2 separate regions of the Homo sapiens genome follow, and region 2 is linked to region 1. Evidence: fine-mapped QTL for protein levels in blood plasma. A gene starts in region 1. The other region holds a variant in brackets. All regions are shown on one strand. Distances are between the middles of the regions.

Evidence for each region. PIP is the chance, under the fine-mapping model, that this variant and not a neighbour inherited with it causes the effect. Sun 2018 read protein levels with aptamers (SomaScan).
Region 2: its variant is fine-mapped to the plasma level of the BPIFB1 protein (Sun 2018, PIP 0.95).

What each region holds. Positions count from the first base shown.
Region 1 is chr20:33,280,056-33,285,432 of GRCh38, reverse strand. BPIFB1 (BPI fold containing family B member 1) reads right to left here and starts at 2,219. Exons shown (of 16, transcript NM_033197.3): 1 at 2,179-2,219. RefSeq lists enhancers at 3,146-3,646, 3,647-4,147.
Region 2 is chr20:33,170,296-33,175,672 of GRCh38, reverse strand. BPIFA2 (BPI fold containing family A member 2) reads right to left here. Exons shown (of 9, transcript NM_080574.4): 3 at 2,597-2,741; 4 at 1,487-1,594; 5 at 114-266. Among named protein-coding and RNA genes, the nearest start is that of BPIFA2, 4.8 kb to the right of the region's middle. The variant A/C (reference allele first, on the strand shown) is at 2,526.

The DNA of each region.
Region 1 (5,377 bases):
CTGTATTAGCTATTTTCTTACAGAAAATCCAGCAACAATGCTCAGAACAAAGAACTTCTGCTTCCCGTGTCTCCCACCCCTCAGTCTGACACTTAAAACCCTCTATGGTTCACCGTCTGCTGACCTCACCTCCTGCTTTCTCTCCCCTTGTTCTAGCAAGTTCCAAGCAGTTGGAAGGTCTCAGAACATACTGTGTTCTCTCCTGTGTCCGTGCCTTTGCTCTTGCTCTTCCTTGCTTCCTGGAATGCTTTTCTCCTCCCATATCTCCCTGATGAACTCCTATTCATCCTTTAAAACCCTGCCAAGATTTGTCACTTTCCCTATAAAGCTTCCCCTGTCCTGCAGACAGGGAACCTGGACCACACTTGGAGAAATGTTGTCCTGGGGCCCAAGACATGAAGGTTGGAGGCAGGAAGGAAATGAGGAGCCAGGTAGGACTCAAAGTTGTGAAAAAGCTCTTTGCTTAATCTGCAATACTAAGGGGGCTGGGGAGGGACTGAATGGCTTCTTGGAGCCAGGAAAAGAAGGGCAGAGAGAGAGAGAGAGAAAGAGAGAGAGAGAAAGGGCCCTGTGGCTCATGCCAGGGAGAGGAGCTTGGGGGTATTCTGGCCCCTTGGCTGCTCTGTCCCCTCCCTCCACAGGGGTGTGGCATCAACATCTGTAGTCCAGTCCTGAGCTCTCCAGCTTGCACCCTGGCTCTGTCTGCCAGCCCCCCATGGAAGCTCCTGCCCCTGTGGACTGTCCTGCTTGGAGGGAGGGGAGACGCTGCAGAGATCTGAGCCCCTCGCTTGGTTCAGCATGTGGATTTCTTTTTGCCAAAGACAAATGTGGCATCCGGATGACATGTGTCTCCTGTGCCCTGGAGCAGTGTGAGCTCTTCTGAGACCCTTGCAATAATGATTCAGCCTCTGCTTCCCTGACCAAGCTGTGAGCTCTGGGAGGGAGGGCTGGGTCTGCCTGCTCCCTGCTGTGTCCCTGGCATCCAGTATAGTGGTTGGCATAGACCAGGTGCTTAATAAATGGCTGCTGAATAATTGCATAGCCTCTGGAAGCCCCGAAAGAATTGGAAATCTGAGCCTGCTAAGCTGAAAAGGTTAGTGTTAGGAGGCCTGAAGGTGGAGGGGAAAATATTATTGGCTTGGCAGCCAGATGAACCCTAGTTGGAGGCCTGCCTCTACCACTTGCTCTGTGATCTTTGACAAGTGACTTACCCTTTCTGAGCCTCCATTTACTCATCTATAAAATGGGGAATAATTATAGTACTTATGTCATAGGCTTTTTGGGAAGATTAAATGAGACAATCTATTTGTGGCCTGGCATGGCCAAGCGTTCAGTAGATGGTAGCTTCCACGATAATTATGACAGGTATTATTACTAATATTGGAGTCAGAAGGAGACACCTTGCAGCCAAAGCCAGAAGACAGAGCTGAACCCCGGCATCCAGGCACCCCTGTGGCCCCACTCCATATTTTCCTTGCAAATACCTTGACTCTGTCTGTCCTGCATTATCTGTACACACTGCTCAGTCCTCTTTGGATCAGAGAAACCCAGGGACCCACGAGGATGGTAGCATCCCTGTTTCCCTCCTGTGGAAAAGACTCTCCTCCCCCAGATCCAGGCACCACACACGCCCCTGTCATATGGCACCTCCTCTCCCAGCCTTTGCTTCTGCTAGTTCCCCTTCGTGGAATATCTTTCTCTCCTCCTTTGCCCAATCGCCTTCTACTCGGCTTTGCAACCAACACATCACCTCTTCCAGGATCCCTTCTTTGACTGTCCTCCACTCCCATGTCCCTGGGTCTTCCTTGGGCACCACATTGTCCTGCACTGGGAGTTCTTTGAGGGACAGAGTCTGCGTCTCATGCTTCTTTTGTCCCAGCACCACCGCAGCACAGCTGGGACAGAGCAACTGGTATGTGCAGAGTGGGTTTATGTCACTAGGAAGAGGTCAGGAAAACACTCAGCCAGCCCCATCCCTTCGTCACTGCCCTTTGGTCCTCTGGGCGAGGGAGCTGGGCATCTCTCTACACCTGGCCCTGACCCTCAGCGGATCCTGACTCACCGAGGGCCCTTCCCTGAGGGCGAGCCTCCCCTGTGCTCCTGACCTGACCCCAACAGGTATCTCTAGCTCAGAACCTTCCTGGCAACCTTGGCTTTCAGCCCCTTCCCTACTTTTACCTGGGCACGCTGGAGTCCTCGGCCCGCTCCTCTCCTCTCCCGGGCAGTGGGTCTGGAAGTCCAACCTTATATCCTGCACACCCCAGCACAGGCTTTGTCTTTAGGCAGAGGCCTCAGACCAGGCCGAGGTCTCCAAGGTAAATATTTGTGGCTTCTGCTGAACCACAGCCCCGCCCGGAGGCAGCCTTGGGACTCCAGCTTCCTGAGGTTTGGAGAAAGGAAGGTCCAGGCTGAGAGAAGCACAGTGCATATAGCAGAATAAGCACTCCATAAATGTGAGTGGCCGTTGCCATTAATATTATTATTGCTTATAATAGGATGAGCCTTTGTAGAGGGATTACAACAATTGTTTAATCCAGATAATCAATTTGGGAAAAGGAAGGAGTAGCCTTACCCACCCCTTATTCCTAAATACATCAAAGATACACATCTCCATCAATTAATTCACCCAGGAGAATAGATTTGAATCCTATTTTTGCCACTGCTTTGCTGTGTGCCCTTGGGCAAGGTACTTCACCTCTCTGGGCCCCAATGACCTCATCTATAGCATGGGGATAATAGTAGCTCCTCCTCATAGGTTGTTAAGAGCATGAGTTGAAGTGCATGCCTACACAGTGCTTAGCATGGGCTTTCATTTCATTCATTCATTCATTCCGCAGCAATTAAAATCTGCTCTACCTTGTCTGCATCTTTAGGAATCTCCATGAGCACTTGTGGACCAAAAGAATAAGGAGGGATGACCATGAACCTAAAGGACAAATGTCAGAGCCCAGCAGGACGCTGTCATCCACCACCTGGGCCCAGGTCTTGGCTCACGCAGCCTGCACAGTCACCCAGAGGTGGGCATCAGCAGCGTTAATGTTACAGAGGGCACCTGAGGCTCAGAGAGGCGAGTGACTTGCTCAAGGTCACATGACCAGGGATTCCAGCTTTGGGACCTGAACCCGATCATCAGTCCAGACCGGACCCTCTTAACCGCCACACTGTCCTTCCCCTGAGACTTCAATTTAGCACTGGAGGTGGTGGTGACACCAACATGGCCTTTTGATGTCATCTGGGGAATTATCCTTGCTACCCAGTTTTTGTCTAGAAGAATGGAATTGTGGTTTAGAGCTGGGATGGCCATTGTTGAATCCTGTCTCCATCTGCAGCAGACAAGTCAGGGGCAGTAAGTGTTCTGAGGTCACAAAGTACGTGGCCAGGCCCTGGCTGGTCTCTTCCTCCTGCTTTTTGACAAGAAGAACAAGGTGAAGAGCGTTTGCTGTCCTGCCATGTTTGCAAACACACCAAAAGCCCTGAATACCTAAAGGTGAGGTGTTTTGAGAGAGCTCTTGGGAGGACCCTGCCGATCCCTTGGGCACATCTCCAGAGAGGCAAATGCCCCTGCTTGGCTTCCCAGCTGGCCATGCCCACTGCCCATGGACAATGACCCTCTGTGCGGTGCTCGGGCCCAATGCCAAGACCTGGGGCCGCATCAGCTCCTGCTTCCTGCCACGTGCTGGGACAGCAAAGCTGGCTGCATCTCTGCAGGCCCATGGTCCCCAGACTCCACACCTGCCCTCAGTACCGCGTGGCCCCTCCTCAGGTTGCTGGCGTCTCTTGGCCTTGGCTCCACCTCTCTTCAGCTCCCAGGCCTTTTTGTGCCGTGTCCTCTTTCTGGAGTACCTCCTTCACCCTCCTGAAAACCTAATTGTGCCCTGTCTGGGAAGAAGCGCAGGAGTGCAGGAGGAAGCCTGTGGAGGCCGACAGACACGGCTCAGATTCCTGCTCCTATACTGACAGCTGTCAGCCTTGGGAAAATTGCTTCTTCTCTATGAGACTGTTTCCTCCATTGTGAAATGGGACTATTTTGAGGGTCTCGTAAGGTCATGAGAAATGCTTGAAACATCAGAGAATTCAGCAAGTGGTAAATTCACACCTGTAATACCAGCATTTTGGGAGGCAAATACTGGTGGATTACCTGAGGTCAGGAGTTTGAGATCAGCCTGGTCAACATGGTGAAACCCTGTCTCTAAAAAAAAAAAAAAAAAAAAATTAGACGGGCATGGTTTTTAGGTGGCACGTGCCTGTAGACCCAGTTACTCAGAAGGCTGAGGCAGGGGAACCACTTGAACCCAGGAGGCAGAGGTTGCAGTGAGCCAAGATCGCACCACTGCACTCCCGCCCGGGCTACAGAGCAAGACTCTGTCTCACACACACAAAAAAGAACGCAACATCTGCATAAAGCTGCCTGACTGCTGCTCCACCTGGCCTGGATGTCCTCTTCCCAGCATGTTTGGCTGCTGGCCACCTTTCAGCCCTCACCTCTCTCTACTTCATCCCTCGCTCCTCTCACTCCCACCCCAGGGCCTGCGCACATGCTGGCCTTATCCCAGGAGCGCTCTCCTTCCAGCTCTCATTCTGGCTTCTTCTAATTCACCAAGTCTCAGCTACAGTGTTGCCTCCTGGGGTGGGGTGGGGGAGCAGGGGACAAGGGGACCACCCTCTCTAAGGTAGGGCTCTTTTTGCTGCACACTGAGGGTGTCCTTACTAGCATTTACTGGAACTGGGTCTGAAAACTTGAGTGTTGTTTTAGGCACCATGATTTCCCAGATGCTGTATACCAAGGAGAGGTCCTGGGCCACAGACCAAGCAGTGGCTAAAAACCAGTTGCACAGCTCCTGCATCTCTCATGCAGGGGGCCCTGACCCAGATTAAGGCAACGAAAGGGCCAAGAAGGGACAGGAAGAAGATGGCAGAGGTATTTCTTGGGAGACAGCTGTGGTCCCTCCTCCTCTCCCAGGGAGGAGGGCAGGAGGTGTTTGGGCCTCAATGCAGGCCTAGCAGGAGGGACCTTTTCAGGGACCACTTAGGGGCTTGAGGTTTGTCTCCCCTGGAGTTGGGGCTTGCAGTAGACTGGGTTGTGTCTCCTGATGAGTTGAAGTCATGTTGGGCAAAGTGACTTCCGTAAGTGGAAAATTACTGCTCTCTGTTCCCTCTGGGCAGGGTCAAAGCGCATGTGTGTGTGTGTTTTCCCAGGGCCGGGTGTGGACCCTGCAAGACGAAGATCGGTCTAGGGCTGCTTGAAGTCCTTCCTAGTATCACCACCTGGAGAGGACGCTAGAGAACCAGGGGCTGGGAGTGGCTGGGGTGGCCTGCGGGACAGTTAGCCATCAAAGAGGCTCTGCCCTGGTGTGGGGGGTGCAGGTCAAGAAGCCCC
Region 2 (5,377 bases), 110 kb after region 1:
AGAGCCTGAACACTTTCACCACTAGGCCTCCTCTTAGGTAGAGGACTAGAGCTGAAATTAGGGGTCCTCAAGTTCCCTGAGAGCCCAGCTCTACTAAGATGAATGGGACTTACTTGTCCAGCAAGGAAAGTGAGATGCTGGTTGGGTCACTGGCGCATTCTCCCAGGACGGCAACAGGCTGGTGTGTCTGGGGATCAGTTTCAATTGTGACTGCGGTCAGGAGGTCCAAGGAGGCTTTCAGGTTGATAATCTGGCCAATGATGGGCCTGCAGGAAGTAAGATGCACAGTGAACAAAGTCTAGAAGTTCCTGCCTGTTGCCCAGTTGGGTTCCTCCACCTGTGTGGACATGAGTCAGAATGTCTATGTGTAATGTCAACATGGCCCAGGTAATATCAACATGGTCCATATCCTCTATGAGATTTACATGTTTATATTAGGGGCTTCTTCTCCTGGCCACTTGGGTTTAGCTCATATGAATTTTTTATACAACATTACACTAATAAGTAAAATAATAATAGTTAACATTTATTGACAACAATTTATGTGTAGGTACTTTAAAAAAGTATTTTACCTGGATTCATTTATTACTATCCCTATTTTCTGAATGAGGAAACCTTGGTACAGAGAGGTTAAGTAACTATCCCAAGATCTCATAGCTAAATAATGGGTGGCATCATTAGTGCATGTAGTTTACAGAAGTGCTTTCACACATGCTCATTTCTTGTCTATCTCCTTTAAAATTAAAATTTTTTATTTTTTGTGAGACAGGGTCTCACTCTGTCGCCCAGGCTGGAATGCAGTGGTGCAATCACGGCTCACTGCAGCCTCGACCTCTCCGGCTCAAGCAATCCTCTTGCCTCAGCCTCCCAAGTAGCTGGGACTACAGGCGTGTGCTGCCACACCTGGTTAATTTTTGTATTTTTTGTAGAGACAGGGTTTTGTCATATTGTCCTGGCTGGTCACGAACTCCTGAGCTCAAGCAATCCTCCCACCTCAGTTTCTCAAATTGCTGGGATTACAGGTATAAGCCACCACTCCCAGCTAAACTTAAAAGAGTTTAAACTTATATTTTGCACACACACACTTTATTATACACTGTGTATTATTGTATGAATTTTTCTGTAGTGGTCACTGCAACTTAGAGAGAATCTTGAGGGACAAAATAATGCTGGAGGAAATTTTGCCAAAGAATGATAAATGTTTGTTATCTCAACTTTTCAAATTTTAAAACCAGATAAATGTCATGATTTCAAAACTATATTCAATGGAGCATTGTTTTTAAAAGACACTTGCTTATGGCCAGAGTTCTCTAGAACATTTTAAGGGTTAAGATCTTAGACCCAGAAGGGTTCTCTCACTCACAGATTGGGAAACTGAGGCCCAAGTTCACCCAGCAGCGGGAGGAGGTGCCCGATTCCCAGGTTGGGCATCCATCGGCCAGGTTGCACTGCCTTTCCCAAATCTCAGATTCTAGTGCATACTCACCCGGCCACAGTGACATTCGCGGTGACAGGGAAGCTCAGGTTAAGGCCTTTGCCATCATCGATCGGTTCAGCTTTGACATCCAGGATGAGGGAGTTGCTGATTTTCAACCTGTGTGAAACCCACAATTCACCCTTGTCACTCCTCATGACAGCCACTTGCCAACCACTTCCCTGGGCCAGCCTCGAGCTGAGCGTTTGGGTCTCGTCAGCCTTGCCTTCTTTAGTCTTCACTATAGCCCTGTTCAGAGGTTTGATTCTCTGTATTTTATGGCACAGCACACTGAGGCTCAGGCTGGTGTGATTTTCCCCCAGATTCCTAGGGGAGTAAGTGCCAGAGGCAGATTTTGAGGCCAGAACTATCTGACTTTAAAAGTTCATGAGTGGGACCGGGCACGGTGACTCACGCCTGTAATCCCAGCACTTTGGGAGGCCAAGGCAGGCAGATCTCCTGAGGTCGGGAGTTCGAGACCAGCCTGACCAACATGGAGAAACCCTGTGTCTACTAAATATACAAAATTAGCCGGGCGTGGTGGTGCATGCCTCTAATCCCAGCTACTCAGGAGGCTGAGGCAGGAGAATCGCTTGAACCCAGGAGGCGAGGCTGTAGTGAGCCAAGATTGTGCCATTGCACTCCAGCCTGGGTAACAAGAGTGAAACTCCATCTCAAAAAATAATAATAATAACAATAATAATAATAAAAGTATGTGAGTGGATCCACTGCCTGGGGTTATGTGGCGAAGACTCCAGTTCCCTTCCCCTAAGGGGATCTGGGCTTTTACCCCCAGTTATATATGGAAAAGGGAAGTTTTATTCCTTGGAAAGGGACTTTGTGTACCAGCAAATGGGTAGAGGTAAGGATAAATATAACCTTCACCCTGACCCTGAAATTAAAGAAAGCGGAAGCCCGAACCCATAAGATGCCCGGATTGACTCTGTAGCCCTGCCTCTAATTTACTCAAGCTCTGGTGGGTCTGGCCTTGCTCAGACCACCTTGGCTCTGTGGGAGGGGAATGAGGCTTGTCCATCTGTCTTTCATCTTA[A/C]ACTTACCTCCTCAAAGATATGTTTTCCCTTTCCTTAGAGCAAAGATCTCCACCCTGAAGGACCAACTCACCCAAAAATGTCCGTGTTAGTTGGAAGCAGCTTAGAAATGACATTGTTCAGCAATTTCTCAGCTTCCTGGGCCTTCTGCTTGGCCAGTTGCCAAGCACTGGATTTCTGAAGCACTCCTAGGTCGACCTTCAGTTTCTCAAGGATGCCTGCCAAAAACAATCGCCATTTTGTGTCACGCACCACTTACGAAGTAGCTACGATGCTCCAGGTACCGGGTAAGACTGTTTGCCTATGTTATTTCATTTAATCTTTATAACAACTCAGTGAAGTAGATATTGTCACTGTCTGCTTTTTTATAGCTAAGGAAATAAAGGCTCTAGATGGTTAAGAAACGTGTCTAGCCACACAGCCAGGGAACTCTTGTTTCCTCCATACTGCCTCCGTACTATTAATAATATATACTGATTATTTATCAACAGTGCAATCAACCAGTTGGCCAGGCAATTGCTATTGATTGTACACCAGTGTCTAGGAGTGACTTAGGGGTCCATTGTGCTAAGTGAGATGCTCACGTGAGTTTGAAAAACTAGAAAGAATGAGAGAATACACTCAAGAAATGAAAAATCTAGAATCCAGGAGAAAAAATGGCTCCAATCCATGAAACTGGAAAACGAGAGTCCCAGAATGACAGCTTTCCAGCAGGTCCACAGAGCAATAATAATAATTTTTTTTTTTTAACTTTAAGTTCCGGGATACATGTGCAGAATGTGCAGGTTTGTTACATAGGTATACATGTGCCATGGTAGTTTGCCGCACCTATCAACCCGTCATCTAGGTTTTAAGCCCCACCTGCATTAGGTATTTGTCCTAATTCTCTCCCCCACCTTGCCCCCAAGCCCCCAAATGGCCCCAGTGTGTGTTGTTCCCCTCCCTGCATCCATGTGTTCTCATCATTAAACTCCCATTCATGAATGAGAACATGCAGTGTTTGGTTTTCTGTTCCTGTGTTAGTTTGCTGAGGATGATGGCTTCTGGCTTCATCCATGTCCCTGCAGAGGACATGATCTCATTCTTTTTTATGGCTGCATAGTATTCCATGGTGTATATGTACCACATTTTCTTTATCCAGTCTATCATTGATGGGCATTTGGGTTGGTTCCATGTCTTTGCTATTGTAAATAGTGCTGCAATAAACATATGTGTACATGTGTCTTTATAGTAGAATGTTTTATATTCCTCTGGGGATATACCCAGTAATGGGATTGCTGGGTCAAATGGTATTTCTGGTTCTAGATCCTTGAGGAATCACCACACTGTCTTCCTCAATGGTTGAACTAATTTACAGTCCCACCAACAGGGCAAAAGTGTTCCTATTTCTCTACAGCCTTGCCAACATCTATTGTTTCCTGACTTTTTAATAATTGCCATTCTTACTGGTGTGAGATGGTATCTCATTGTGGTTTTGATTTGCATTTCTCTAATGATCAGTGATGATGAGCTTTTTTTCATATGTTTGTTGGCCACATAAATGTCTTCTTTTGAGAAGTGTCTGTTCATATCCTTTGCACACTTTCTGATAGGGTTGTTTGTTTTTTTCTTGTAAATTTGTTTAAGTTCCTTGTAGATTCCGGATATTAGACCTTTGTCAGATAGATAGATTGCAAAAATGATCTCCCCTTCTGTAGGTTGCCTGTTCACTCTAATGCCAGTTTCTTTTGCTGTGCAGAAGCTTTTCAGTTTAATTAGATCCCATTTGTTAATTTTCCATGCTCACGGATAGGAAGAAACAATATCATGAAAATGGCCATACTGCCCAAAGTAATTTATAGATTCACTGCTATTCCCATCAAACTACCATTGACTTTCTTCACAGAATTAGAAAAAAAAACTACTTTAAATTTCATATGGAACCAAAAAAAGAGCACATATAGCAAGACAATCCTAAGCAAAAAGAACAAAGCTGGAGACATCATGCTACCTGGCTTCAAACTATACTACAAGGATACAGTAAGCAAAACAGCATGGTACTGGTACCAAAACAGACATATAGACCAATGGAACAGAACAGAAACTTCAGAAATAACACCACATGTCTACAACCATCTGATCTTCAACAAACCTGACAAAAACAAGCAGTGGGGAAAGGATTCTGTATTTAATAAATGGTGCTGGGAAAACTGGCTAGATGTATGCAGAAAACTGGAACTGGATCCCTTCCTTACACCTTATTAAAAACTTAACTCAAGATGGTTTAAATACTTAAATGTAAAACCCAAAACCATAAAAAACCTGGGCAATACCATTCAGGACATAGGCACGGGCAAAGACTTCATGACACCAAAAGCAGTTGCACCAAAAGAAAGCAATAATTCTTATAGGAGGAGGAGGACAAAGTGTCTTTATGATAGGTCTCTGGAGAACAGGGGGATGGGAATAAATGTCGTGACTGGGTGTGGTGGCTCACGCCTGTAATCCCAGTACTTCGGGAGGCCAAGGCAGGAGGATCACTTGAGGCCGGGAGTTCGAGACCAGCCTGGGCAAAATGGTGAGACTCCACCGCTACAAAAAATGTAAAACTTAGCCAGGTGTGGTGGTGTGCACCTGTAGTCCCGGCTACTGGGGAGGCTGAGGTGAGAGGATCAGTTGAGCCCAGGAGGTTGAGGCTGGCAGTGTACTCTAGCTTGGGTGACAGAGTGAGACCTTGTCTCAAAAAATAATAAATGTCATGATAGATACAGGATGATGCTCATGAAAATAATTAAGTATATATGAGAAGAAAATAATTCAAGTGAGAAACAACAGGGCAATTACTAACTTAAGGAAAAACAAAAGACTATACCGT